Homo sapiens: one gene and its partners. The protein of the gene in region 1 purifies or fractionates together with the protein of each later gene. This does not show direct contact. Each region holds a gene or a part of one and is shown in the gene's direction. Other genes may lie near its edges. The genes, in order: NR2C2, MKI67, SUCLG2 and GLUD1.

What was found.
Region 2: the proteins of NR2C2 (region 1) and MKI67 purify together in Homo sapiens (affinity purification with mass spectrometry; 2 studies listed by BioGRID and IntAct, with this or other methods). This does not show direct contact.
Region 3: the proteins of NR2C2 (region 1) and SUCLG2 purify together in Homo sapiens (affinity purification with mass spectrometry; 2 studies listed by BioGRID). This does not show direct contact.
Region 4: the proteins of NR2C2 (region 1) and GLUD1 purify together in Homo sapiens (affinity purification with mass spectrometry; 2 studies listed by BioGRID, with this or other methods). This does not show direct contact.

What each region holds. Positions count from the first base shown.
Region 1 is NC_000003.12:14,942,734-14,950,585, forward strand, and holds the start of NR2C2 (nuclear receptor subfamily 2 group C member 2), read left to right. Parts: upstream 1-4,849; 5' UTR 4,850-5,173; intron 5,174-5,279; exon of another isoform or gene 5,280-5,708; intron 5,709-5,898; exon of another isoform or gene 5,899-6,991; intron 6,992-7,852. UniProt on the Homo sapiens protein: Orphan nuclear receptor that can act as a repressor or activator of transcription.
Region 2 is NC_000010.11:128,102,419-128,109,443, reverse strand, and holds part of MKI67 (proliferation marker protein Ki-67), read left to right. Parts: intron 1-20; coding exon 21-6,865; intron 6,866-7,025. UniProt on the Homo sapiens protein: Protein that associates with the surface of mitotic chromosomes and acts both as a chromosome repellent during early mitosis and chromosome attractant during late mitosis.
Region 3 is NC_000003.12:67,644,607-67,651,631, reverse strand, and holds part of SUCLG2 (succinate--CoA ligase [GDP-forming] subunit beta, mitochondrial isoform 2 precursor), read left to right. Parts: intron 1-7,025. UniProt on the Homo sapiens protein: GTP-specific succinyl-CoA synthetase functions in the citric acid cycle (TCA), coupling the hydrolysis of succinyl-CoA to the synthesis of GTP and thus represents the only step of substrate-level phosphorylation in the TCA.
Region 4 is NC_000010.11:87,084,824-87,091,848, reverse strand, and holds part of GLUD1 (glutamate dehydrogenase 1, mitochondrial isoform a precursor), read left to right. Parts: intron 1-225; exon of another isoform or gene 226-2,287; intron 2,288-7,025. UniProt on the Homo sapiens protein: Mitochondrial glutamate dehydrogenase that catalyzes the conversion of L-glutamate into alpha-ketoglutarate. Plays a key role in glutamine anaplerosis by producing alpha-ketoglutarate, an important intermediate in the tricarboxylic acid cycle.

The sequences.
Region 1 (7,852 bases):
TTCCACAGTTAAAAAAAGGGGGTGGGGATAGGTGGCTAACAGCAATTACGTGAGGTTTAAAAGTTTATTTTACAACCATGTAATTGTACAAATGATATAAACAGAAGTCAGATAAAATTATTAGTACATATATAGTACTAAAGCATAAACTATTACAGAAAATTTGATACAAAGTTGTACATAAGTACTTGTAAAGGCAATTAAGCTTCCCCAGTCTATGGGAATACAAAAGTTGCCAGCAATTAATTTACATTACAAAAAAGGAAAACCATTATTTATGCTATCACAAAAGCAATACCCTTAAAAGTAAAAACAATCTCCACTTGATATTAGTAATTTGAAAAACTTAGCATATCTACAACTACTGCTTAATCAACACTTTTCATTGATTCAACATTATCACTTAAATGCAGATGCAAAATAACCTTGCATGGCAAACATGTTTACTCTGTGCTAATGAAACTATGAAACAGTTCCTCCAAGTTCACAGACAAGTCAATCAATGATTGACTACAGAACAGACTGGTGAGTGTTACAAAAAAAAAAAGACCTGCCCAGGGGACCACTAGGGGTGGAGGAAGAACACCTGGGTCTCACTCACTGGGCACTTGATGCTTTCATTTTTATCTGTAAGCCAGGGGACAATTATATTAATATTGTATGAATACACTGCTACTGGGAAAAGCATTCATTCAACAGATGCCCACTACATACTCTGTACCAGGTAGTGTGTTAAGTGCTGAAACAGGGAAGGACAAGGCACATCCTACGGGGGCTCGCAGTGTGGGCAGGTGCTGAGCTAACGCACACACACAAGGGCTGGGTACTGCCAGATCTGTATCACTCCGGAGCAACGACCTGTCTCTCTGAATGATCTCTGGCATGGTAAAAGAGTTAACTGTATTTCAAAAGGTGAAACAAAACTTTTTTTGCTTTGTTATGCATGTTTCAAATTGATCAGTGGTTCAGGCCTGGAGTATGCATCAGAATTATCTGTGAAGCTTAGTGAAAGTGCTGATGCCAGAGCCCACCCAAAGCTTACTGCTTCAGAACCACTGGGGACCTGGCAGTTCTGATGTGCACGACTAGTCAAGAATCCTTTAAAGGCTGATAAAGCAATCTTGAAATCACTGTCAATGCAAAAGTGGATGTTCCTCATTAATAAGAACTCAAAAAATAAAGTACAGCTAGTATAAGACTTGTTTTTTGTGCCTATAAAACCCAAGTGTTAGCTACTTTCTAACTATAAAATTCTATCCAAAAAGACTTGCAGTCAAAACACCGAGCCAAAAAACAAAAAAGGCACCAAAGCAGTGCCGACTTCAATGTGCAAAGGCCTTTTACGTGCTGATATTGTAAGCAATCTGTGTGCATGTGTACATATGCATCTGTTTTCAGGGAAAGAAAAGCTGTTAAAGCCAATTAAGGTTATGAATTCTTGCTACTACTTTAATATTAAACCTTTAAGTGAAAATTTATTGAACACTATTACAAATGTGGCAAACTGACATAGCTGGTTTACTGCACAAACTTTAATGTCAAAGGGATTAGATCAGAGCTCCAGTCTCACTTACTGGGCCTATAACATTGTGCAGGGCACTTATCTCACCTCAGGAAAATGGAAGTAACTGCTTCATTTTACAGAGGTATTAAATGAAAGAAATGAGAAAACTATAAACCAACATTGAAGCCTGAATTATTGCTTAGTATTTAAAGTCTAGTACAATTGCAATGTTTTTAATAAAAAAACTCATTGATAGGTGTATTTTTACAGTGTATCTAAAAGCAGCATTTAACATTAAAAACTTAGTATTTAAAAGAGTACACAACCAGGCAGGGTGTGGTGGCTCACGCCTGTAATCCTAACACTTTGGGAGGCCAAGATGGGAGGATCACTTGAGGCCAGGAGTTCGAGACCAGCCTGGTCAACACAGCGAGACCCCAACTTTTTTTTTTTTTGAGACAGTTTCGCTCATCGCCCAGGCTGGAGTGCAATGGTGTGATCTCGGCTCACTGCAACCTCTGCCTCCCGAGTTCAAATGATTCTCCTGTCGCAGCCTCATGAAGTAGCTGGAATTAGATGCCCGCCACCCCGCCTAGCTAATTTTTTTGTATTTTTAGTAGAGATGGGGTTTTACCATGTTAGTCAGGCTGGTCTTGAACTCCTGACCTCAGGTGATCCACCCACCTCACCTTCCCAAAATGCTGGGATTACAGGCATGAGCCACCATGCCCGGCCAATGCCATCTATTAAAAAAACAAAGAAAAAGAGTACACAACCACAAAGCACTGGGCCAAATGCATTGTTTCCATGTTTGCAAGGATTTACCATAGAAATATTAGGTTGATGCAAAAATTAAATTTCCAGACTGCGAATTTTAAATCATTGTAACTACGCTAAAACATATTCTATTAATCAAAACAGGAACCATTACAATCAACACATTTTTGCCAATGAGAAATGTTTGTTTATTCCTGTAGCATAAAAATCCGTGCTTCAGGATTTGACGAACTCTTGGAAAGCATTTTCTGCACCATGCTGAAGTGTTTTCCCTGCAAAAAGTTGTCAAGATGCTAGCAGAAGTGGTAGTCAGTTGGCGAAAGGTCAGGTGAATATGGTGGATGAGGCAAAACTTTGTAGCCCAATTCCTTCAACTTTTGAAGCACTGGTTGTGCGACACGCAGTCAGGTGTTGTCGTGGAGAAGAATTGGGCCCTTTCTGTTGACCAATGCAGGCAGCAGGTATTGCAGTTTTCGGTGCATCTTACCAATTTGCTGAGCATACTTCTCAGATGTAATGGTTTCACCAGGATTCAGAAAACTGTAGTGGATCAGATGGGCAGCAGACCACCGAACAGTGACCATGACCTTTTTTTTGGTGCAAGTTTGGCTTTGGGAACTGCTTTGGAGCTGCCTCTTGGTCCAACCACTGAGCTGGTTGTTGTATAAAATTCACTTTTCATTACATGTCACAATCCGATTGAGAAATGGTTTGTTGTTGCGTAGCATAAAAGAAGACTACACTTCAAAACGATAGTTTTGATTTCCGCTCAGCTCATGAGGCACCCACTTATCAAGCTTTTTCACCTTTCCAATTTGCTTCGAATGCTGAACGACCCTAATGACCGTAGAATAGTCAACGCTGAGTTCTTCTGTAATTTTTCATGTAGTTCAATGATTGCTCTCAATTGGTCGTTGTCAACTTCCCATGGCCCATATCACGTTCCTCATCTTCAAGGCTCTCTTCCTTGCAAAACTTCTTAAGCCACCACTGCACTGTATGTTTGTTAGCAGTTCCTGGGCCAAATGTGTTACTGATGTTTTGAGTTGTCTTCGCTGCTTTATGAACCATTTTGAACTCGAATAAGAAAACTGCTCCAAATTTGCTTTTTATCTAACATCATTAGACAAAAAGCATATTCTAAAATAAACAGCAATAAGTCATTAGCAAAAAAATAAAGTGAGAAATGTGCATTAAAATGATCCACATTTATTTAAGAATGTATTCCAATATCAAACAGCAAATTTCAAAAATGCAAAAACGCAATTGCTTTTGCCTCTCAGGTACATCACTTGACCTTTCTAGTTCTCACCCACTTCACCCCTAAAATCGGAAAATCTTTCTGCAAGAAAAAAATTTGACCACATTCCCTTAAGGCCTCTTCCAATTTCAAGAGCTGTGCTTTACCATGACAAAACGAACCTAGCTCTTTTCCCAATTTTGCAACGTCAGAAAAAGGAGGAAGGGGAAATAGCTGTGTTTAAAACATTTTTTACCAAATAGAAATATTATAAGATTATGGAAAAAAAAATACTAAATGTTGGAGTCATCCTGATAAAAACCCAAATGGATACTGTGTGGGAAAAAAAGTTAACCCATCCATTCTGGAGTCAATATTTATTCTTAATAAGCAAGAAAACTGAAGAAAAAAAATCAGTATAAGATCTACAGCCTGTAGCCTAAACACTTCAGGGCATTTAGGATAAATAAGCGCCTGCACCTTCCCAGGCAAGTCAAAACCACGACATAAAACAGAGAAATATGTAAGGAAAACCTACAGCCCAAGAGTTTAAGAGCAAGACAGGCCAATTTCTTCAAATAAATTTAAGCAATGCTGCTAAAAGCTGCTTTACACATCCCTATTACCATGTACTACTTCCAAATTTCGAGGAGGAGGGGCATGGAATTACACAAGATCTGGATCGTATGTTTACTAAGAAACCAAAAATTATAGGTTCTGGGGCGTTTCAACATTTCACCTGAGATGGCCAGAACGGGCGCATCTTTAGACCTTTAAAACCTAAATTAAAAACTATCAGTACCGAGGAAGGGCCGAAGAGCTCAATACCCACCCAATACAACCCCCACTTCCGACCTACAGACGCTCTGCTGAGCGGCTGGGAGAATCCGTCGCGCCAGTCAGGGCCCGGCTTCTTCCAACAACAGACACTTTGCGAGCCTTCCAGAAGCCTTGGCTAAGCGAGAAGGCAGGGTGGAGGCCGCCACTGCGAGGACGGTCCCCACCCAGCTGCGAGGAGCTCGCGGTTCCCCAGAGGGGCGGGCCTGCGTCCGGGTAACCGTGCGCGACGTCCACGAGTTTTTAGGACGACCAGCCCTTCAGCCTCTAGGCCCCGACGCCTGCGCCATTTAAGCCACATATCCGCCCGCCCGGCCGCGGCCAAGGCCGGCGGCAGCTACGTAGCCGCCGCCGCCCGGGGCCCCACAGCCCACGGGCCGGATGGACCGAGCGCCGGCTGCGGCGTTCCGGTGCGCGCGCGCGCCTCAGCCAATCGCGTTCTCGCCCGCCCCCCGCCGCGGCGGCGAGGCTGGCGCTGGGAAGAGGAAGAAGAACATTCGCCCTCCTCCTACCAGCGCGCGGGCGGCGGCGGCGGCGGCACCGGGGTCACGAACTCTGACCTTTCACTGACAAAAACAATAACAAACCCCCCCTTCTCCGCGACCCCGGCGGCGCCCCCGGGCCCGTCCCCGCCACCCCGCTCCCACCTCGGCGTCTCGTCTCTCGCCCGCTGCCCCGCGAGCCCGCGGCCCCCGGGCTCCCGCCATCCGCCGACACCGGGAGCCCGGGCTCCCCGCGCCCTGCCCTCCGCGCCGGGGGCCGCCCGCCGCAGACACGGGACCCGCTTCGAGGCCGCTTTGGCGCCAAATCCTGAGGTAAAATTGAAAGAGGGTCGGGCGGGCTCGGGCCGGCGGCGGAGGGGGCGGGCCTGGCGCGCGGACATGGAGGCGCCGCGGCGGCGGCTGAACCCGACCCTTTTACCTTTGCCACGGGGTGGCGGCGGCGGCGCCCGGCGCTTTGCATAGTGGGCCGGGCCGCTCCCCTCCCCTCCCCGCCCGCGGCCGGGCGAAGCGAGCGGGTTCCCCCTGACCGGCCCGGCCGGCGCAAGGGTGGGGGTGGAGGGGGAATGGCCGCGGCCCCGCCTTATAGTTGGCCCTCCGCCAGCGCCGCCATTTTGTTCTCGACGGAGATGGCTCCGGCTGGGCGGGCTCCCTTCCTCCTTATCCTCCTCCTCCTCCCGCCTGCAGTCCCTTCTTCCTTCTCTGCCGGGATTTTCACCCCTCCGCTTCTAGTCCGCCTTTGGCGGCCGTCGCAGCCCAACCGCCGTTTTTTCTGAAGGGGAGGGTAAAAGAAAAGGAGGAAGGCGGGTGCGAGGCGCGACCTCGTGAGCGACGGATGGGCTGGCTAATTGGCGCCCAGATAGGAGGGCCGGGGCCTGTGGCACCGCCCCCCTAAGCTTTGCTGATTGGCTGAGGCGGAAGAGGGTGGTCCTTATGGGGCGCGGGAGCCCTGGCGGGGCGGGAGTAGAGGCCGGGGCGAAGAGTGGGGCCGGGTCGGCGGGGGCGGGGCCGGGGGCGGGGCGCGAGGGGCGCGGCCGGGTGGAGAGGCCGGCGCCTGGTCTTGGGTCAGCAGGTGGGCTGCTTCCCTCCGCCTGGAACGCGTCTCGAATGAGTACTGAGGAACAATAGTAATAAAGGTGATGAAGCATTTCGAGTCCACGATGCGCTCTCGTGGGAAGAGGTTTTCGGAACCAGGACACTTTTCAGGGCTCCTGCTCGTTATTTCGCAGCGGCCTTGGCGAATCCCCTAATGAGGCTCAATTTTATCGACTGTAAATGGGGGGCATGCGCATTCTTGCCAGGCCGGACCTCCCTTCTGAGCATTGTTTGTGGGGCTCTACTCAGAAAATGGAGGCAACGCTACTTTGCGAGCTTCAGAGTCACTTGAAAATGGTGTTATTGTTAAAAATGGGATTACAGCCACCAGGAGAGGCAAGCGTTAAGGGTATTTGGGGTTTGAGAGAGCACAATTCGGGAGTGATTCTCTTCTCATTCGTTCGCTGAATACATGTTGACTTAGTTTTTTAGGCACTGGGGACACATCTGGAGAACCAGCTGTACAAGACCCCTGCCCTCACTAGAGTTGGGGGCTGGGGGGTGAATAGACAAATAATTCCAGAGAGTCATAAGTTCTGTGAAAGAAAAGAAGCCAAATGACCTGCTGAAGAAGACCTGAGGCGTTAATTTAGATGGAATGGTCAGGGTGGCCTCTCTGAGTAAGTGATGTTTGAACAGAGGAACCCAAGGGAGGAATGGCATTCCAGACAGGACATCCCGTGTAACGGCCCTGGAGGAAGAGCATTTGATGTGATCGAGAACTGGCTGCTTGTGGCTGGAGAGTTGGTTGGAACTAGTAATTGTCCATTATCCCACTTTGTTTCCAAGCCAAAGGCTGTGAAATATAGCAACGGTAGTGAGGAACAAATCTTCAATGTAATAAGAAAGTCGAGGAAAATACAGCCTTCATATGAATTACTGATGAATACATGACTTGGGAGGAGGGCCTCAGAAACTCACTTTACTTCCAGATTCAAATCCTTCGTCAGCCTCTTATATACATTTTCAGTTCATCAAGTATTTCCTGAGTGCTACGAATACTCCAGGCACTATGTGCTAGGCTGGGAATACAAAAAAGTAAGACACTGGTCCTCAAACATGTGAATATGATTTATTTATTTATTTATTTATTTTTTGAGACCAAGGTCTCACTCTGTCGCCCAGGCTGGAGTTGAATATAATTCTCTGTGTGTGAGTTCTCTCTTTCTCTCTCTCGAGATAGAGATATTTATACACATACATACACAGACATAAAATGTTTTAGTGTTGTGGTTAGCAACTCCCCAACTTTTACTAGCAGTGTGATTTTGTGTAAGCTACCTTTCCTAGCCTCACTGTCCTCATCTGGACAATAATAGAGCCTTCCTTCCTGAACTGAAGATTAGATGAGTTAATGTAAATAATAGAGCTTAGAAAAGTGCCTGACATGTAGCAAATACTGTGTAAATAGAGTTATTGTTGTCATTATGAACTACTGGTATAGACATTGGACTAATTAAGTGATATAAATAATGAAATTTTTATGCAGTGTGGTGTAGGGGCAAAAACAATAGATTCGAACACCGAGATTCTAGTTTTGGCTCTGTGCTTGCAGCTAGTTACATGGCATCCAGGACAAAAGTTTGGAAAACAAAATAATGGAACTAAATAGTACTAACCAAAGTATAGGGTGCTTTATGATTTACAGAACTCTCTTACAGGCAGTATGTTGTTCAGGCGCCACTAGAACCCACGTAATGGCAGAGGCTTCCTGTTCCATGTTTAAAAACCTTTCCAAGGCTTTTCATTATTTTCTTATCTGTGGTACCCCTAGCTTCCTGTGCTCTAGACACACTGGCCTACCTTCAACTTCCTTGACCAGTGTAGCTTACAGTGTAAGCTTACCCCCCACCCCCACCCTACCTCAGATATTGGCTCAAGCATCACTTCTTCAGGGAA
Region 2 (7,025 bases), on another chromosome or scaffold:
TGTGTATGTTTTTATTTCAGGAGGAAATGTGTTCTTCAGTGCACAGAATGCAGCAAAACAGCCATCTGATAAATGCTCTGCAAGCCCTCCCTTAAGACGGCAGTGTATTAGAGAAAATGGAAACGTAGCAAAAACGCCCAGGAACACCTACAAAATGACTTCTCTGGAGACAAAAACTTCAGATACTGAGACAGAGCCTTCAAAAACAGTATCCACTGCAAACAGGTCAGGAAGGTCTACAGAGTTCAGGAATATACAGAAGCTACCTGTGGAAAGTAAGAGTGAAGAAACAAATACAGAAATTGTTGAGTGCATCCTAAAAAGAGGTCAGAAGGCAACACTACTACAACAAAGGAGAGAAGGAGAGATGAAGGAAATAGAAAGACCTTTTGAGACATATAAGGAAAATATTGAATTAAAAGAAAACGATGAAAAGATGAAAGCAATGAAGAGATCAAGAACTTGGGGGCAGAAATGTGCACCAATGTCTGACCTGACAGACCTCAAGAGCTTGCCTGATACAGAACTCATGAAAGACACGGCACGTGGCCAGAATCTCCTCCAAACCCAAGATCATGCCAAGGCACCAAAGAGTGAGAAAGGCAAAATCACTAAAATGCCCTGCCAGTCATTACAACCAGAACCAATAAACACCCCAACACACACAAAACAACAGTTGAAGGCATCCCTGGGGAAAGTAGGTGTGAAAGAAGAGCTCCTAGCAGTCGGCAAGTTCACACGGACGTCAGGGGAGACCACGCACACGCACAGAGAGCCAGCAGGAGATGGCAAGAGCATCAGAACGTTTAAGGAGTCTCCAAAGCAGATCCTGGACCCAGCAGCCCGTGTAACTGGAATGAAGAAGTGGCCAAGAACGCCTAAGGAAGAGGCCCAGTCACTAGAAGACCTGGCTGGCTTCAAAGAGCTCTTCCAGACACCAGGTCCCTCTGAGGAATCAATGACTGATGAGAAAACTACCAAAATAGCCTGCAAATCTCCACCACCAGAATCAGTGGACACTCCAACAAGCACAAAGCAATGGCCTAAGAGAAGTCTCAGGAAAGCAGATGTAGAGGAAGAATTCTTAGCACTCAGGAAACTAACACCATCAGCAGGGAAAGCCATGCTTACGCCCAAACCAGCAGGAGGTGATGAGAAAGACATTAAAGCATTTATGGGAACTCCAGTGCAGAAACTGGACCTGGCAGGAACTTTACCTGGCAGCAAAAGACAGCTACAGACTCCTAAGGAAAAGGCCCAGGCTCTAGAAGACCTGGCTGGCTTTAAAGAGCTCTTCCAGACTCCTGGTCACACCGAGGAATTAGTGGCTGCTGGTAAAACCACTAAAATACCCTGCGACTCTCCACAGTCAGACCCAGTGGACACCCCAACAAGCACAAAGCAACGACCCAAGAGAAGTATCAGGAAAGCAGATGTAGAGGGAGAACTCTTAGCGTGCAGGAATCTAATGCCATCAGCAGGCAAAGCCATGCACACGCCTAAACCATCAGTAGGTGAAGAGAAAGACATCATCATATTTGTGGGAACTCCAGTGCAGAAACTGGACCTGACAGAGAACTTAACCGGCAGCAAGAGACGGCCACAAACTCCTAAGGAAGAGGCCCAGGCTCTGGAAGACCTGACTGGCTTTAAAGAGCTCTTCCAGACCCCTGGTCATACTGAAGAAGCAGTGGCTGCTGGCAAAACTACTAAAATGCCCTGCGAATCTTCTCCACCAGAATCAGCAGACACCCCAACAAGCACAAGAAGGCAGCCCAAGACACCTTTGGAGAAAAGGGACGTACAGAAGGAGCTCTCAGCCCTGAAGAAGCTCACACAGACATCAGGGGAAACCACACACACAGATAAAGTACCAGGAGGTGAGGATAAAAGCATCAACGCGTTTAGGGAAACTGCAAAACAGAAACTGGACCCAGCAGCAAGTGTAACTGGTAGCAAGAGGCACCCAAAAACTAAGGAAAAGGCCCAACCCCTAGAAGACCTGGCTGGCTTGAAAGAGCTCTTCCAGACACCAGTATGCACTGACAAGCCCACGACTCACGAGAAAACTACCAAAATAGCCTGCAGATCACAACCAGACCCAGTGGACACACCAACAAGCTCCAAGCCACAGTCCAAGAGAAGTCTCAGGAAAGTGGACGTAGAAGAAGAATTCTTCGCACTCAGGAAACGAACACCATCAGCAGGCAAAGCCATGCACACACCCAAACCAGCAGTAAGTGGTGAGAAAAACATCTACGCATTTATGGGAACTCCAGTGCAGAAACTGGACCTGACAGAGAACTTAACTGGCAGCAAGAGACGGCTACAAACTCCTAAGGAAAAGGCCCAGGCTCTAGAAGACCTGGCTGGCTTTAAAGAGCTCTTCCAGACACGAGGTCACACTGAGGAATCAATGACTAACGATAAAACTGCCAAAGTAGCCTGCAAATCTTCACAACCAGACCCAGACAAAAACCCAGCAAGCTCCAAGCGACGGCTCAAGACATCCCTGGGGAAAGTGGGCGTGAAAGAAGAGCTCCTAGCAGTTGGCAAGCTCACACAGACATCAGGAGAGACTACACACACACACACAGAGCCAACAGGAGATGGTAAGAGCATGAAAGCATTTATGGAGTCTCCAAAGCAGATCTTAGACTCAGCAGCAAGTCTAACTGGCAGCAAGAGGCAGCTGAGAACTCCTAAGGGAAAGTCTGAAGTCCCTGAAGACCTGGCCGGCTTCATCGAGCTCTTCCAGACACCAAGTCACACTAAGGAATCAATGACTAACGAAAAAACTACCAAAGTATCCTACAGAGCTTCACAGCCAGACCTAGTGGACACCCCAACAAGCTCCAAGCCACAGCCCAAGAGAAGTCTCAGGAAAGCAGACACTGAAGAAGAATTTTTAGCATTTAGGAAACAAACGCCATCAGCAGGCAAAGCCATGCACACACCCAAACCAGCAGTAGGTGAAGAGAAAGACATCAACACGTTTTTGGGAACTCCAGTGCAGAAACTGGACCAGCCAGGAAATTTACCTGGCAGCAATAGACGGCTACAAACTCGTAAGGAAAAGGCCCAGGCTCTAGAAGAACTGACTGGCTTCAGAGAGCTTTTCCAGACACCATGCACTGATAACCCCACGACTGATGAGAAAACTACCAAAAAAATACTCTGCAAATCTCCGCAATCAGACCCAGCGGACACCCCAACAAACACAAAGCAACGGCCCAAGAGAAGCCTCAAGAAAGCAGACGTAGAGGAAGAATTTTTAGCATTCAGGAAACTAACACCATCAGCAGGCAAAGCCATGCACACGCCTAAAGCAGCAGTAGGTGAAGAGAAAGACATCAACACATTTGTGGGGACTCCAGTGGAGAAACTGGACCTGCTAGGAAATTTACCTGGCAGCAAGAGACGGCCACAAACTCCTAAAGAAAAGGCCAAGGCTCTAGAAGATCTGGCTGGCTTCAAAGAGCTCTTCCAGACACCAGGTCACACTGAGGAATCAATGACCGATGACAAAATCACAGAAGTATCCTGCAAATCTCCACAACCAGACCCAGTCAAAACCCCAACAAGCTCCAAGCAACGACTCAAGATATCCTTGGGGAAAGTAGGTGTGAAAGAAGAGGTCCTACCAGTCGGCAAGCTCACACAGACGTCAGGGAAGACCACACAGACACACAGAGAGACAGCAGGAGATGGAAAGAGCATCAAAGCGTTTAAGGAATCTGCAAAGCAGATGCTGGACCCAGCAAACTATGGAACTGGGATGGAGAGGTGGCCAAGAACACCTAAGGAAGAGGCCCAATCACTAGAAGACCTGGCCGGCTTCAAAGAGCTCTTCCAGACACCAGACCACACTGAGGAATCAACAACTGATGACAAAACTACCAAAATAGCCTGCAAATCTCCACCACCAGAATCAATGGACACTCCAACAAGCACAAGGAGGCGGCCCAAAACACCTTTGGGGAAAAGGGATATAGTGGAAGAGCTCTCAGCCCTGAAGCAGCTCACACAGACCACACACACAGACAAAGTACCAGGAGATGAGGATAAAGGCATCAACGTGTTCAGGGAAACTGCAAAACAGAAACTGGACCCAGCAGCAAGTGTAACTGGTAGCAAGAGGCAGCCAAGAACTCCTAAGGGAAAAGCCCAACCCCTAGAAGACTTGGCTGGCTTGAAAGAGCTCTTCCAGACACCAATATGCACTGACAAGCCCACGACTCATGAGAAAACTACCAAAATAGCCTGCAGATCTCCACAACCAGACCCAGTGGGTACCCCAACAATCTTCAAGCCACAGTCCAAGAGAAGTCTCAGGAAAGCAGACGTAGAGGAAGAATCCTTAGCACTCAGGAAACGAACACCATCAGTAGGGAAAGCTATGGACACACCCAAACCAGCAGGAGGTGATGAGAAAGACATGAAAGCATTTATGGGAACTCCAGTGCAGAAATTGGACCTGCCAGGAAATTTACCTGGCAGCAAAAGATGGCCACAAACTCCTAAGGAAAAGGCCCAGGCTCTAGAAGACCTGGCTGGCTTCAAAGAGCTCTTCCAGACACCAGGCACTGACAAGCCCACGACTGATGAGAAAACTACCAAAATAGCCTGCAAATCTCCACAACCAGACCCAGTGGACACCCCAGCAAGCACAAAGCAACGGCCCAAGAGAAACCTCAGGAAAGCAGACGTAGAGGAAGAATTTTTAGCACTCAGGAAACGAACACCATCAGCAGGCAAAGCCATGGACACACCAAAACCAGCAGTAAGTGATGAGAAAAATATCAACACATTTGTGGAAACTCCAGTGCAGAAACTGGACCTGCTAGGAAATTTACCTGGCAGCAAGAGACAGCCACAGACTCCTAAGGAAAAGGCTGAGGCTCTAGAGGACCTGGTTGGCTTCAAAGAACTCTTCCAGACACCAGGTCACACTGAGGAATCAATGACTGATGACAAAATCACAGAAGTATCCTGTAAATCTCCACAGCCAGAGTCATTCAAAACCTCAAGAAGCTCCAAGCAAAGGCTCAAGATACCCCTGGTGAAAGTGGACATGAAAGAAGAGCCCCTAGCAGTCAGCAAGCTCACACGGACATCAGGGGAGACTACGCAAACACACACAGAGCCAACAGGAGATAGTAAGAGCATCAAAGCGTTTAAGGAGTCTCCAAAGCAGATCCTGGACCCAGCAGCAAGTGTAACTGGTAGCAGGAGGCAGCTGAGAACTCGTAAGGAAAAGGCCCGTGCTCTAGAAGACCTGGTTGACTTCAAAGAGCTCTTCTCAGCACCAGGTCACACTGAAGAGTCAATGACTATTGACAAAAACACAAAAATTCCCTGCAAATCTCCCCCACCAGAACTAACAGACACTGCCACGAGCACAAAGAGATGCCCCAAGACACGTCCCAGGAAAGAAGTAAAAGAGGAGCTCTCAGCAGTTGAGAGGCTCACGCAAACATCAGGGCAAAGCACACACACACACAAAGAACCAGCAAGCGGTGATGAGGGCATCAAAGTATTGAAGCAACGTGCAAAGAAGAAACCAAACCCAGTAGAAGAGGAACCCAGCAGGAGAAGGCCAAGAGCACCTAAGGAAAAGGCCCAACCCCTGGAAGACCTGGCCGGCTTCACAGAGCTCTCTGAAACATCAGGTCACACTCAGGAATCACTGACTGCTGGCAAAGCCACTAAAATACCCTGCGAATCTCCCCCACTAGAAGTGGTAGACACCACAGCAAGCACAAAGAGGCATCTCAGGACACGTGTGCAGAAGGTACAAGTAAAAGAAGAGCCTTCAGCAGTCAAGTTCACACAAACATCAGGGGAAACCACGGATGCAGACAAAGAACCAGCAGGTGAAGATAAAGGCATCAAAGCATTGAAGGAATCTGCAAAACAGACACCGGCTCCAGCAGCAAGTGTAACTGGCAGCAGGAGACGGCCAAGAGCACCCAGGGAAAGTGCCCAAGCCATAGAAGACCTAGCTGGCTTCAAAGACCCAGCAGCAGGTCACACTGAAGAATCAATGACTGATGACAAAACCACTAAAATACCCTGCAAATCATCACCAGAACTAGAAGACACCGCAACAAGCTCAAAGAGACGGCCCAGGACACGTGCCCAGAAAGTAGAAGTGAAGGAGGAGCTGTTAGCAGTTGGCAAGCTCACACAAACCTCAGGGGAGACCACGCACACCGACAAAGAGCCGGTAGGTGAGGGCAAAGGCACGAAAGCATTTAAGCAACCTGCAAAGCGGAAGCTGGACGCAGAAGATGTAATTGGCAGCAGGAGACAGCCAAGAGCACCTAAGGAAAAGGCCCAACCCCTGGAAGATCTGGCCAGCTTCCAAGAGCTCTCTCAAACACCAGGCCACACTGAGGAACTGGCAAATGGTGCTGCTGATAGCTTTACAAGCGCTCCAAAGCAAACACCTGACAGTGGAAAACCTCTAAAAATATCCAGAAGAGTTCTTCGGGCCCCTAAAGTAGAACCCGTGGGAGACGTGGTAAGCACCAGAGACCCTGTAAAATCACAAAGCAAAAGCAACACTTCCCTGCCCCCACTGCCCTTCAAGAGGGGAGGTGGCAAAGATGGAAGCGTCACGGGAACCAAGAGGCTGCGCTGCATGCCAGCACCAGAGGAAATTGTGGAGGAGCTGCCAGCCAGCAAGAAGCAGAGGGTTGCTCCCAGGGCAAGAGGCAAATCATCCGAACCCGTGGTCATCATGAAGAGAAGTTTGAGGACTTCTGCAAAAAGAATTGAACCTGCGGAAGAGCTGAACAGCAACGACATGAAAACCAACAAAGAGGAACACAAATTACAAGACTCGGTCCCTGAAAATAAGGTGAGAGGAAGTATTACAGCATCACTCAATATCGTCTTGGATAGTTGTGAATTTCTGTGTTATACTTTGCATGTAACCTGACGTTATAAGTGGTTATCCTTTCCCCAGAGGGTTTCCTTTAACACTGAATAACTGCAGGCCATGGTAAAGAATCTTCTTG
Region 3 (7,025 bases), about 53 Mb from region 1:
GTGCTCCTGCCTGTCACTACCTCCACCCTACAAAGGGTCACCAGTCCCCTGACTTATAACGCTGGTTTTGTTCAGTTTTGTACTTTAGGTGAAATTATATGTAGGCATACACATACTTCACATTGCTCAGCATTATATGTAAGTGATCCTGGAGATGGCCTTTTTGACATATGAGCTGAGACCTGAGCGATGAAAGGTAGCCAGCTAGGTGAGACTAAGGGGAAGAGTGTGTTAGGCAGAGCAGACAGCAAGTGCAAAGACTGAGATGAGAATGAGCTGGGCATGTCTAGGTAATTAGAGGGGGAAAGTGGTAGTAGACTAGGTCTGAGAGGAAGACAAGGGCCAAATCATGTGGAGACCTGCAGGGTCTGCTAAGGAGGTTTCAGGGGTTTAAACCATACAGAGGCTGAATCCCAGTCCTGGCAGCCAAAGCACAGGCATGTAATTAATGTACTGTACACGCCCCCTGTTATAAATCTAAGTTAGGCTGGCTTTGAAACTTTTAGCAGAGTGGTGTTCAGTGAATTTAGCAGTAAGGGTCTAACCATGGTTAGAAGTCTTTCCAAAGACCTAAATCCTGGTAGACAGGGGCCATGTTGCTGTGTCCATATAGCCAAGTGAAAAGTGTGTGCAGTACTTGGTGGTGTAATATAGCCAGGCACTGCCATGGTGGGCAAGATATGAGTACATACTGCCAGTCAAGTCTTAGGGGAAATGTTGGCTGAGGGCACTGAGTTTGAAATGGTTCTTAAGTCTAAGCACAGTTTTGTTGTCTCTTAGGGTATTTCCCCTCTCTTTGGCTAGTGGAAGTTCATGGAGCTCTCTTGTAGGAGAAGCACTGCCTTTCAGGTCTCCAATTTTATTTTACTTTTTTTTTGAAAGAGAGTCTCACTCTCACCCAGGCTGGAGTGCGGTGGCCTGATCTTGGCTCACTACAACCTCCTCCTCCTGGGTACAAGCGATTCTCCTGCCTCGGCTTCCTGAGTAGCTGGTACCACAGATGCACGCCACCATGCCTGGCTGATTTTTGTATTTTTAGTAGAGATGGGGTTTCGCCATGTTGGTCAGGTTTGTCTCAAACTCCTGACCTCAAGTGATCTGCCCCCTTCAGCCTCCCAAAGTGTTGGGATTACAGATGTGGGCCACTGTGCCTGGCCAGGCCTCCTATTTTAGAATCCTTGTTGTATGTTTTCTGTGCAGCCCAGAGCTTCTGTCCAGGGACTTACAGAGGAATGTATGTTGTCAAAGAAACTGCTTAAACCCATGCCCCTGCTGTTGTATACTCAGAAAGAATGGCTCCAGCCTAATTTTCTGCCTTTACGGAAGTGGGAGGAGAAAGATGAATGCATGACTTTTGTAAGTGAAGGACTAAAGGTTATGGGCAAGTTCTTATCAGCTAAATGAGGCTGTGGCGGCTGCATTGGAAGTTGTGACTTACCTGTATCTCCCTCTTGCCTAGGAGAATAAATATTTGACTTTTTTCTTTTTTTAAAATGAAGTACAGCTGCAATTTCTGCTTTTAGAAAAGGGAATCCATCTCAAATAATTTAGATGCTAAACTATTGACCTTCCTTGTGGGGAAGACCGTTAAGTGATAGCTTTGTCCTAAATTGGTTTTGTTTGCTGTAAATAAGGCATTTCTTTTATGGGTGAGTGATTGAGTGCACAGACCCACAGTAGTGAGAACATTCCTGCCCTCGTACCCTGGTCTAGTTCTGCAGGCGCAAAGCCCAGAAAGTCACTGAAATATGGCATATTTGGGGGAGGAAAAGAAATTACATAAGTAACCTCAGATCATTTGTCCTTCAGCTGTCTTTACCACTCAATCTGCAATTGTCACTTGATGCATCACTTTCTGTTACTTGATGGAAAAGTTTTACTGAAGAACTTGAGAGATTTGGAAATATTTGAACAAATGATAATATCAGTACACTAATGAAATTTGGAGATTAATCTTGAGAGTTTGTGAGGAAGGTGGAGGTGATGAAGAAGGCAGTCCAGGTGAATTCATGCAGAGGCAGAGGTGAGAGAACAGGGGGAGAGTAGTTGTAGTGAGCAGTTTAGTATGGAGAAGGGAGAGGTGGATAGCAGAAGTTGAGGGACAATGGCACTTTTGGGTATACAAAGAAGTCTAAATGGGGCTTCAGAAAGCCCAGAATTCAGCAGGGAATAAAATTAACCCCCACAACTGAAAAATCAAACAAATATCATTTATGTAGCAAATATTTTCTGAATGCTTATTACAGCTCATTCTTTATAGAATGTTGGGCAGATAAATATGACTGAGTGAATGCAGACAGGAATAAGAAACACAGCTCCTACCTTCAGAGGGCACAGAGGTACAACTGGCCTATAAACCTGTAGTTATACTAAAACATAGTGGGTACTGCAATTGAGCTGTGTTCTTAGCCTTCTAAGATACTGTTGGCCTCTGTCAACCACTTACCCTGTGTCTGCAGAACTATTCCCTCTGATCATTCATTGCCTGATCTCTGTCTTCATCAGCTTTCTGATTCAACGTTGATTCTTCAGATAGGCTTTTTCCTAATTACCTTACCCAGCCCTGCCTTTCCAGGGATTATTCTCTGTACCCTTATCTGCTTTGTTCTTTATAACACTTGACTGTACCTGGTAGTGTTATTTGTTCATTGGCCGTCTTCCCCGCTCTCCTACAAGTTTAAGAATGTAAGCTCCACAAAGGCAAAGTGATACAGCTTAATGTAACAGCGTGAGTGATTCCCCAGCTGGCCGGAGTTGGTATTCAGTAAGCATTTGTGGTCTCAGTCAATGAGTAGGGTGCACAGAGAAGGGAGAGGGAGGTAAGGAACAGGAGAAGTTGAGGGATGATGTGGCTCATTTCAGCAAATGAGGAAGAAGGAAGGGGCTATAGAAATCCTAGTTGTGAAAGGGTCCTCATAATCATAGAACTGTTCCTTGGGCATGTAGTATATAACAAGGCTGCGTGAAGTAATCTCCACACATTATTTCTTTAACCCTTACAACATCACTGCAGGGGAGATTTCACAGTCTCCATGTTTTATAGAAGCAGTCAGAGGCATAGAGAGGCCCTATAGTCATTTGCTTAAAATCACAGTGCCAGGGAGTCACCCGCCTCATGCTGATAAAGGACTTATGCTGTTAAATTATTAAGCTCTGTCACTGAAAGATCCTAGTTGGGCTGAACTAGGCAGTTAAACTGATTGCTTACCTTTCCCCATCTTTTTGCCCTTGAGTGACACTCGCCTTTGGTCATTTGGACTTGTGCTGATGAAGGTGTGCTGATCAACTTGGCATGGTTGCCCTTTCTGGACTCTTATCCACCTTCCTCTCTCTCTGGCTTCAGGGTCTTGTCAACAGAGTAGTAGGGAGATTAAAGACACGAAGTCTGGGTTCAAATTCAACGGAGTTCAAATTCTTATGGGATCTCCCATGTTCTTTCTCTGCAACCTGGAGCAAATTATTGAACCTGACTGAGCCTCAATTTACTGTTACTTGAAAAGGGGATCATTTGCACAGATAGTTACAAAGATTAAATAAGATGATATTTAAGACATTTGGCATATGACCCGATGGTGGGCCCAGGATGATTATTTCTCTTGCACTGAATTTGAAGCTAAATTCGCTGGTCTTTTTAAAAGGCTTTATTGAGCTAGAATAATTTTGCTTTCCCAGATTCAGTAAGCATTTATCATGTGCTGCCATCTCAGGATTAGTCACTGGCTTGGTGCTTCCATACATTTTATTTCACTTCATCCTTGCAGTAGCCATGTGAAATAGGAGTTATTGTTCCCAGCTTACTTCTGGGGAATCTGAGGCTCAGAGGGGTGAAGATCTGCCTCCCGGGCTCTGATTATCTTCAGGATTCCACAGTTGGGATGAATGTCTGGTGAGGCCTGAGGTGGCAGTGGGGAGGAGCTCATGGGGAGCTTAATTGTACCATCCTGGTTATTACTCATTTCACAAACATTTACATGTCTCAGTGTTGACTTAGTAGTGACGACTGCTGGACCTCGTGCATCAAAGATTTGAGGTGAGGGAACACTTAAAGAATTGGCAGTAGCCACAGCATGAACCAACGGCCAACTGGACATGACTTTCACTGTGTGCTTAGCACAAACTACTGCCCTCAGCGTTTCAAGAATGCTGGAGAAATTGTGAAATGTCATTGCCTTTGCAGAGTGGGCTTTGGGGGATGGTGTTGGAGGATGGAGTTTCCTGGTATTCTGGGTTCAGACTTTGACCAGTGTACTGAGTATGGTCAGCTTTTACCCTTTCTAGAAATGATTCCAAAAGAATAGGACTTAGGCAGTAGCCATAAATGCATAGATTTCTAACATTTACCTTTGAATTTTATTTTTATTTTAAAATTCGAGGGATTTGACATAATATATGAATTGTTAATGGAGACATGGCAAAGCACAAGGCATGGTTTGTGTAAGTTTGGGTCCTGTGGGTTGGAGTGGGGGGACTAGCATCTTTTTTCTGCTCCCATCCATTTCTCCCTGTGCTTGCTGTATTTCCATTTGTGGGCTGTCTTAGTCCCAGAGTTGTGACTTGAGAGCCCTAAGGAGGTTCAGGAGGGCTGCCTTGTAGAGTTTACGGTGAGAAATGAGGCCAGAGACAAGAGCAAGGACAAGATCGCTGATCCTGGTAGGCCTGGTAATGAAGCTAAGCTTGTTCTTGAGGAGGGCAATAGGGAGCCATTGAAGGGTTTTAGACAGTGAAGTGGCAAGGGCAGTTTAATGCGTAGAGTACTCTTTCTGGATATAGTGTGGAGAGGGTTGGAGAAATGCAAGAATGGAGATCATTTGGGCGACTTTGGCATCGATTCAATGCTGTGAGTCATTATGCCAGGATACTAGACGTACACCGTGAGTGGAATCAGACTGCCCGGGTTTAACTCTTGCCTTCAGCACTCCATAGCTTTGTGATCTTGTGACAATTACTTATATTTCTTTGTAAGATACCTTTTTTTTTTCTTTTTCACATTTCAGTGTCTCTGAAAGCTGAATTTATTTATTTTTATTTATATTTTTTCAGACAGAGTCTCACTCTCTTGCCCAGGCTTGAGTGCAGTGGTGAGATCTTGGCTCACTGCACCCTCCATCTTCCAGGTTCAAGTGATTCTCCTGACTCAGCCTCCCAAGTAGCTGGAATTACAGGTGTACACCACCACACCTAGCTAATTTTTGTATTTTTAGTAGAGATGGAGTTTCACCATGTTGGCCAGGCTTGTCTTCAACTCCTGACCTCAGGTGGTCCACCCACCTGGCCTCACAAAGTGCTGGGATTAAGGCGTGAGCCACCGTGCCCGGCCAAACTTTATTGTTTCGATATTGTCTGGTTTTAAGTAAGGGATCCACCCCCATCTTATTGTCTGTGGCTGAAGTCGGGAGGCCTGTGGAGAGGAACAGCACCATGCTTTCCTCCCTGCCTGAAGCAGGGCTCAGGGCTCTGGGTACAGTGTCTGGGGAGTGGCCTGATCCATTTAGGGCACCATATTCTCCCCTCCCCTCCCCTCTCCTCCCCTCCCCTCCCCTGCCCTCCCCTCCATTCCCCTCCCTTCCCCGTGCCCACAGCATTGATTGGCTTGCCCACAGCATTGAATAGAAGTAGGGATCAGCATTATAGCTTTACCAGAAAATATTAAGGTTTTCTCCTTATCAATGGAGATCTCTTCACATTTTTATAAGGAACTATTTTTTATCCTTTGCTTTTTGTCCCCAGCTTCTGCTTGTACTCTCTTACCTGTTGTTGAGATGCTATGCTATACCATCTGGACTTGAAGGACTTATTTGAGTTAGTAAGTCCTTTCCTACCTTTGAAAGAAAGGGGGAAAACCAGTTCTCATAGGCATTCTCATTCCAGCCTGAGGGCTTACGTGGGCCTTTAATAAGTAATAGAAAGTGGAGAGTTATGAATTATTTTTGATTAAGGGAATAAACTATTAATGATGAGTGTTTCTTTGTTAAGATTCAGGGCTCTTTTAAAGTGATGTATCATTAAAATTGAAAGCCAACAATACAGGGAAAAAAGGAATTTTTCAGCTTTTAACTTTTTTATAATTACCATGGAAAAAAATATACGTGCTATTTGGCACATTAGAAAAACTAAGTAAATTTTGAGATGGTGAAGTTGTAAACAGATTATCCTCATGAATTTTAAAATGATGCAGAAGGACTGAATGGCTGAGTGTTGAATAGGATGGTTGGAAATGGAGGCAGAAGGCTTGTGACTTGTCCTAAGCGAGGGTGGGCCTGAGGACGCTTTTAGGATTGGAGTCCCACGTCCAAAACTCACAGCATAGCATGTTGTGAGTGTCTAATGGATCCTTTCTTTTTTGTTTGATATGAGTATATGATGAGGCTTTTATGACCAGTATAAAATAGCTTTTATGACTATATTTTGTATAAAATATAATTTTAATATGTGGGGAGACTTACAGAGTTAAACTTTATAGGAAGATGAGAGAAAAATACTAAATTTTCTTTATGTTAAAGGGCCCCAAGTGAGAATATTTAGTAGTGGTATTTCATTTTGCTTAATATTGGCAGTATATCAGTAATGTTACGCTTATGGTAAGCCAAGAGTCATAGTGTTCCTTTCTTGAAGATGTGTTGTCATGTGCTACAGGATGAATCTATTTCCTCCTGCATACTTCAGAGTCCTTCTTTTCAGGTCAGTGGAATATTTTTCCTGGAATTTTGATGTTAAGCAACATTGTCATAATTTAGGTAAAATTAATTATTGACACAAAGCAGTGTTTTCTGATTGACTTTTAGGGTGTTGAGGGAGGTGGCAAAAGAATTGCTTTTTTGATTAAAAATTTGGATCATTAAGTTCCTTTTTTGTCTCTGAAACCTTGTTTTTGATTTCCAAAGCTTCTAAAGATACTAAAAAATATGAATGTGTATATTCTTTAATTTAAAATTTTTATTATATATTTATTATTGTAGTAAAATATACATGACATAAAATTGACCATTTTAACCATTTTTGCCATTTTTATCATTTTGCCATTTTAA
Region 4 (7,025 bases), on another chromosome or scaffold:
CTCTCCACCCTTTTACCAACCTTCAGCTTTCTGTATCTCATTTTCCCTCAAGAACAACCTTATCCCTGAGTTTTCTAAATTAAAATTCTTGAGGTTGAAGCAAAGCAACAATCTAGCAATAATCTCTAAGGGAAACAGATGGTTATAAGACTTGGTGGCTGATGTGTACTTTTTCCAAGTAAATATTTAATAATACACACTGTTTTTGTGCTTTTCTTTTCCCAGTTACTACATGTACCTGAGGCCGTTAGATTTGTCTGTGTTAAGGATTTGAAAGGGTAAGCTAAAGGATCTGAAGGGAAGTTTAAGTGAGGCCTTAAAAATATTTCCAGCAAAGGGGCATAGTGTGAGAATATGCGACTGATTTGAGAAGACTGGTTCAAAAGTTCTGGTGGGTTTGGAAATATTATCAAAGATTGTTCTATTAACTTTCCCAGAGTAAATTATCTGTATTTCATTTGCTATGGTTCTGCCTGAGACCAGTCTACCTTTTTAGAAGGAAGTTTATTGTTTTAAAGTCAGTTTGGAGGGAAAGTACAGATTGATAATAGCAATTTATTGATGGTAGGAGTCAATTAACTTTCTCTTCCAGTCTGCCCCCCCCCAGTTGTCTTGATATTAAAACTATTAAAATTCCCTATCACTGATGCTACTATCATAAAATTTTCTAAAATTATCATAATTTACATATAGTTGATGGACCGTAGATGGAGTTCTCTCATACATTGACCCTAAGTCTTTTAATTACAAATATTAGTACCCAAAAAAGTGTACCCTATATTAATCCAGTAACTAGTTTTTAAAAGTCAAAATGCCAGAAGGAAACAGTGGAATCTTGATGACATAATGCAAGGGAAGACCGGAGTCAATGCAGTGTTAAAGACGCCCTCAGCCTCTGGGATGTCATTGTTTAGCGCTTAAGGGAAGACTATAGAAAGCACTGATACTGATTTAAAATGAGATATTTCTCTGCCTTCACTGGGGGAAAAAATGTTTCTGACTTATTTTGCTGTGCTCAATTGACAACCATCAAAACTTAGGTAACTTTTAATAAACTCACAGTTTCTAATATTTTTAAGTGGCTGTGTGTCTGCATCTGCTGCCACAGATAAAATATAACCTTTGTAGGTGAATTTAATTTAGGACTTTTCTGAAAGTTCAGTCAGAGGATAGGTAATTTGTGTGTCTTTTAAAAGCACTTAGCCCCGAGGTTGTTGTTTTTAATACATCTTATTTAAATACGGAAATGTGTTGCCCTTATGCCTTTTTATTTCATGGAAGCCAAATGCGTCTTTTCTCCCAAAGTATACTAGAAAATGAAGACGCTTGGTAATGGTAGTGATCTGTACATCAGATTTCAGTCTTTCTGTCACTTGCGTGTATGAATCCATTTAGCAAGTTTGCTTTTGGCAGTAAAGCCCCACGTGCAGGAAGACAAACAGCTGCTCACTCATTATCCAAAGTATACTTTGTAAGAATTAGGGCATCAAAAATTGGATCCTAAGCACCAATATATATTAAAGTTCAGTACAACTTGTAGTGTTTAAGTACAAGAAATAAAAATTGAGCCTGAACTTTTGGCATATAGTGGGAAGAAATTAGGTTTACCGCTGTTAATAATTCAGAGTGCTTAGGAAAATCGGTTTTTATTTACTTATGTTAAAAATACTAAGGGTTCTGTAACCATTAAAAACTAAAATACTAACCTGTAGATGTTGAAAAAATCCTAGACACTAGTCTCTGCCACGTGACTGTTCTTCTTTTCTATTTATTTTACCCAATAATTAGGCTTTTACAATGTAAGTAATAAAGAGAAAAATCTCTAGTATCACTTTAGAGCACATTGATTCATAAATAGCCCATAAATTTTGTACTCAGCAACCCATAAAATACACATGCATGATTCACATAATCAAATAGTAACGAAAGTTACAAAATGAAAAGTGAAGCAGCTCTACCCCAAGTCCTTCCCCCAATATAACCATGAACAGTCTTAAATCTAATGCCGCTGTCTAAAACTGACTAGTTATTCAAATGAATCAATATTTTCCCCTTTCCAGAGGCAGAAATTAATACAGATTCAAGTGTTCACTATCAAGTCGGAATTGTTAATATGTGAAATACTACTGTTAAAGGCAGGAAAGGCTTTATTAAGGACAAGAAGACAAACTAGGAGAAGGAGCTACTCAAGACCTTCCGATTATCTTTACAAAAAGGCAACTACACCTAGAAGATTCTGCAGCCACACACATTCTGCCTTCACTTGAGGTCAACTGCCTTCACCAAGGTCAGATATTAGCAAAGGCTAACATTTATTCAGCTCTGTGTGTGCCAGGCATTTTATTAAGAACTTTTCATGCATCATCAGTTCTATGCCTTATAGCAACAATGCATGTAAGAACTTTTCATGTATCATTGCTTTTATGCCTCATGCAATACACTGTTGTCCCTGATTTCCAAATGTGGCTACTAAGGTTGAGGAGTGAAGTGTCCTTTGGCAGGGTGACACAGCTAGTACGTAGTGGAGTTGAGGTTCAGATTCTGGGCATCTGATTCCAGCACCCACCTTAATCATTGTTGTCTGGGATTTATTTATGCAAAAAGTTACAAATTGTATCTTAGGCTTTTAATTGTAAGCGCTGATTGAGAACCACTTCATGCCATTGACACAATGCTTCCTAATACTTTGGATCATAGATACCTTTGAAATTTCTGTTAAAAGCTATTAGAAGACCTACCTTCTTCCTAGAAAAATACATATTCAAACAGCTTTGCATATAAAACTCAGCATAGATGATATCTCTAGAGGTCCATTTATTCTAATTGCTAAGGAAATGAAATAACCTTTTTCCCCTACACCCAACTCCGAAGACCTGAAATAACATTTTAAACAGTTTTCCATCAAAAGAGGTTTGAAGACTTTGGTGTTTAAGAGATTAATGTGTTAGCCAGAACAACTCATTTCTCTACCAGTGTGTAGTCCATTTATCTTTAAAGATTTTCTATTGAATAATTTTGAAATTACTTTCTTAGTTTTCTTCATTAAAAACTAAGAAAATGCTTTGTTTATTATGAATTGCTATTTCTCTTGATTATTATTCTTGGAGAAAGTCTATCAGACGTAATTCTTCTGATTTGCTTCTAGGCTAGAGGAAAATGTGAAAGATGACAAATGAAAATTTCAAAGGTTGTCAGTAGTATGACTTCTTTTATCGTTTGTCATTATCACAAATATATCAACATAGGACTTTTAAAAGATATTTTGTACATATTGGGCCTTAGTAGGATTTTGCATGAATTTTTTTTTTCTTTTATGCCAAGAGAGAAAGAGCAAAGAAATAACCAAGGGTGATGTACTCGTATTGAAGGTTTACCAAATAAGGACTGCTTTTATTATGAACTATAGTCTATATTCTAAGTAAATCAATTTTTCTATTATGTGTTTTTTGTTCCTGCAGGCAAGATCTCTGAACTTTATGCAGAGGGTTCTTTTAAAAAAACAAAGTTGAATTTTTTTATTTCTTGGAATATTTTTTTTCATTGATTTCTCCCAAGTAGAGCAGATTCAAATCTCCTTTGTACCCTATGTCTTTTTTGTTTTGCTATAAGCTCAGTATTCCATTTCTACATTTTCCTTTCCTAGAACCAGTCAATAAATGACAAAAAAAAAAACAAAACAAAGTAAATCATGTGTTGTTGCAGTAGGAGTTCAAGGAAACCAAGGACAATCTTGTTTGTTTATTTGTTTTTTTGTTTGTTTTTTTTTTGAAACAGAGTTTTGCTCTTGTTGCCCAGGCTGGCATACAGTGGCGCGATCTTGGCTCACTACAACCTCTGCTTACCAGGTTCAAGCAATTTTCCTGCCTCAGCCTACCAAGTAGCTGGGATTACAGGCATGCACCACCTCACCTAGCTGATTTTTGTATATTTAGTAGAGACAGGGTTTTGCCATGTTGGTCAGGCTGGTCTCGAACTCCCGACCTCATGTGATCAGCCCACCTCGGCCTCCTAAAGTGCTGGGATTACAGGCGTGAGCCACCGTGCCTGGCAGACAGACAGTCTTGATGTGGGAACAGAGAAGGCTGGATAGGAGTTGGATAAGGCCATTTCAGATAAAGAGGGGGTGGCTTCACCCAAGGCAGGAAGTGGAACTGTGTGTAAGGGGGTCATGAGGACAAACTACATTTGTAAATAATGAGAAATAAGGGCTTGTGACAGTAAATATATTTGGTCTCTTTGCCTGGTTCCCAACACAGAGCTCCTGAATGTCGCAAATTCCTGAGTGATAGGAGCATCTTTTGTTCTAACTAGGACACTCTTAATGGGCTTCTGGGTAGCTTCAAGGTGGGGACTAGTCACCAAAAAGACCAAGCCATAATTAGAAATTTGGAACTTTCAGTCCCACCCTTTGACCTCTGGAGATTGGAAAGGGGCTGAAGATTGAGTTTAATCAGCAATCAGTCATGCCCTCATAATGGAACCTCTATACAAACCCTAACTGATGGCTGGAGTATGGGGAGAGTTCAGAGAGCTTCCAGGTTGGTGAATGCATCCATGTATGGGTAGGGTGGTACCCTCCAAATTCCAGGGGAACAGAAGCTCCTGCAGTGGGGACATTCCAGACATGGCCCTGTGTACCTCTTCATGTTGCTGTTGATTTGTATCCTTTACATAAGTAACGTTTCCCTGAGTCCTGTGAGCCTTTATAACATTATTGAACCTGAGGAGGGGGCCATGGGAACCCCCTGGTTGGTAGCCAAGTTGGACAGAAGTGTGGGTGCCCTGGGCACCCAAGACTTGGAACTGGCATCTGAAGTAGGGAACAGTCTTGTGCGACTGAGCCCTTGAGCTGTGGGGTCTGTGCTAACCCTGGTAGTCAGTGTCATAACTGAATTGCAGGACACCCAGTTTGTATCTGCAGAGAACTGGAGAACTGCTTAGTGTGGAAAACCCACACATTTGGTGTCAGAAATGTGTGAGAAAAAACAATTTTTTCCTTTTTTTTTTTTTTTTTTTCTTTGAGACGGAGTCTCGCTGTCTCCCAGGCTGGAGTGCAGTGGCGCGATCTTGGCTTACTGCAAGCTCCGCCTCCTGGGTTGATGCCATTCTCCTGCCTCAGCCTCCTGAGTAGCTGGGACTACAGGCGCCCACCGCCACGCTGGCTAATTTTTTTTTTTTTTTGTATTTTTAGTGGAGACGGGGTTTCACCATGTTAGCCAGGATGGTCTTGATCTCCTGACCTCATGATCCGCCCGCCTCGGCCTCCCAAAGTGCTGGGATTACAGGCGTGAGCCACCGCGCCAGGCCAATTTTTTCCTTTTATGTTTGTTGGATGAATAATGATGAATCTAGCAGGGCACAGAAAGCTAGGCAGCAGTGGAACTGAGAATGAAGTTATAGTTAATAGCAGAGAATGAAAAAGAAAAGACAGATAAAACATTTTGAAGAAAGGACAGTAATGTATTCCCAACAGGTAGGATTTACAGGATGAAGGAGAGAAGAGGCAAAGATAACCACAAAATTTCTAGCCTGAGAGACTGGTAGAAAAAAATGGTGGTATCAGGGACAGATGGGGTTATTAAGGAAAAGGATTGGATTTTTAAAATAAAGAAGATCTGGTGTAAAATTATCCTTAGGGAAATTGGAAATCCAGGCACGTACTTCTCTCCATCATGCCCTTGAATAGTGCAGTCCCTCTGCCTGTCCATGCCTCACTTCCCCCTCCCTAGGATTCCTCTGCCTCTCTTAAGACCCATCTCAAATTATCACGTAGACTTGTAAATAATTTATATGAAACTGGATAGCTGAGGTTTCAAGCCTTTATCCCTTTGAAACTTTTTAATAACAAGTTATTGTTACCTTTTACTAAATCCAACTTTATATTCACCATTTTAACTAGCATCATTTCCGATTCCAAGACCTGTTTGGTGTGAAAGTGCAGCTAAGTTACTGTTAATCAAGATCAGAATAAAAGAATCTACCAAGAAAAATTAACAAAATCCCCCTTTTAATGTATAATCTTCCATCTGTCAGGCTGTAAGTTAAATAACACAAAACAAAGCTGTATGTTTTATGGATATGTACATATATAATTGCAGGGAACATGATTTGGAAGGATATACACTTACATTGCTAAGAATAGTCACCCCTAAGGAGAAGACTGGGGTCATAAGTGGAAGTCAAGGGAGTCTTCAGCTTTCTTTTTGTATTTAAATTTTGATAGAAATACATACATATGTGTTATAATTTTAAATTTTTAATGAAAAAAGTATTCTTCCGTTTTTTCTTTGATGTGTCAATAGGTTATATTTTTCTAATATCAGCTAAACATTTGCTTCCCAGAAAGCTTAGTTACCTCTTCAAAATTTATTCAGGTTAAAATAAAAGATTTAGACTGGATTAAAAATCTAAGATGGTATTTGCCTACTTTATACAAAACAGTACATTGATGCTGCTAAAGCAATTAAAGTATAATTTTTCTGGTTTTTTTTTTTTTTTTTGGAGACGGAGTCTCACTCTCTGTCGCCCAGGCTGAAGTGCAATGGTGCAATCTCCACTCATTGCAACCTCGGTCTCCCAGGTTTAAGCGATTCTCCTGCCTCAGCCTCCCCAGTAGCTGGGATTACAGGTGTGCACCACCACGCCCAGCTAATTTTGTTGTGTGTTTAGTAGAGACAGGGTTTCATCATGTTGGCCAGGCTGGTCTCGAACTCCTACCTCAAATGATCTGCCCACCTCAGCCTCCCAAAGTGCTGGGATTACACGCGTGAGCCACCACGCCCAGCCTAAAGTGTGTACTTTTTCTTAGCTCCTATATGCAGTGCTCCTTCCCATGCTGAATGTCTGAATTTTTATCTGAGACGTAGTATTTCAGGTGGTCATTACTTGTGGGTGGTCATTGAGAGTTCCTCCCTGCTTCTAACCTTCCTCTCTTCATTTTAAATTAAGTTACGCTACATTATTGTGGGTTAGAAGGTACATTAATATTAAGTGAAAAAATATAATCTGATGAGTAAGTGGCAAGA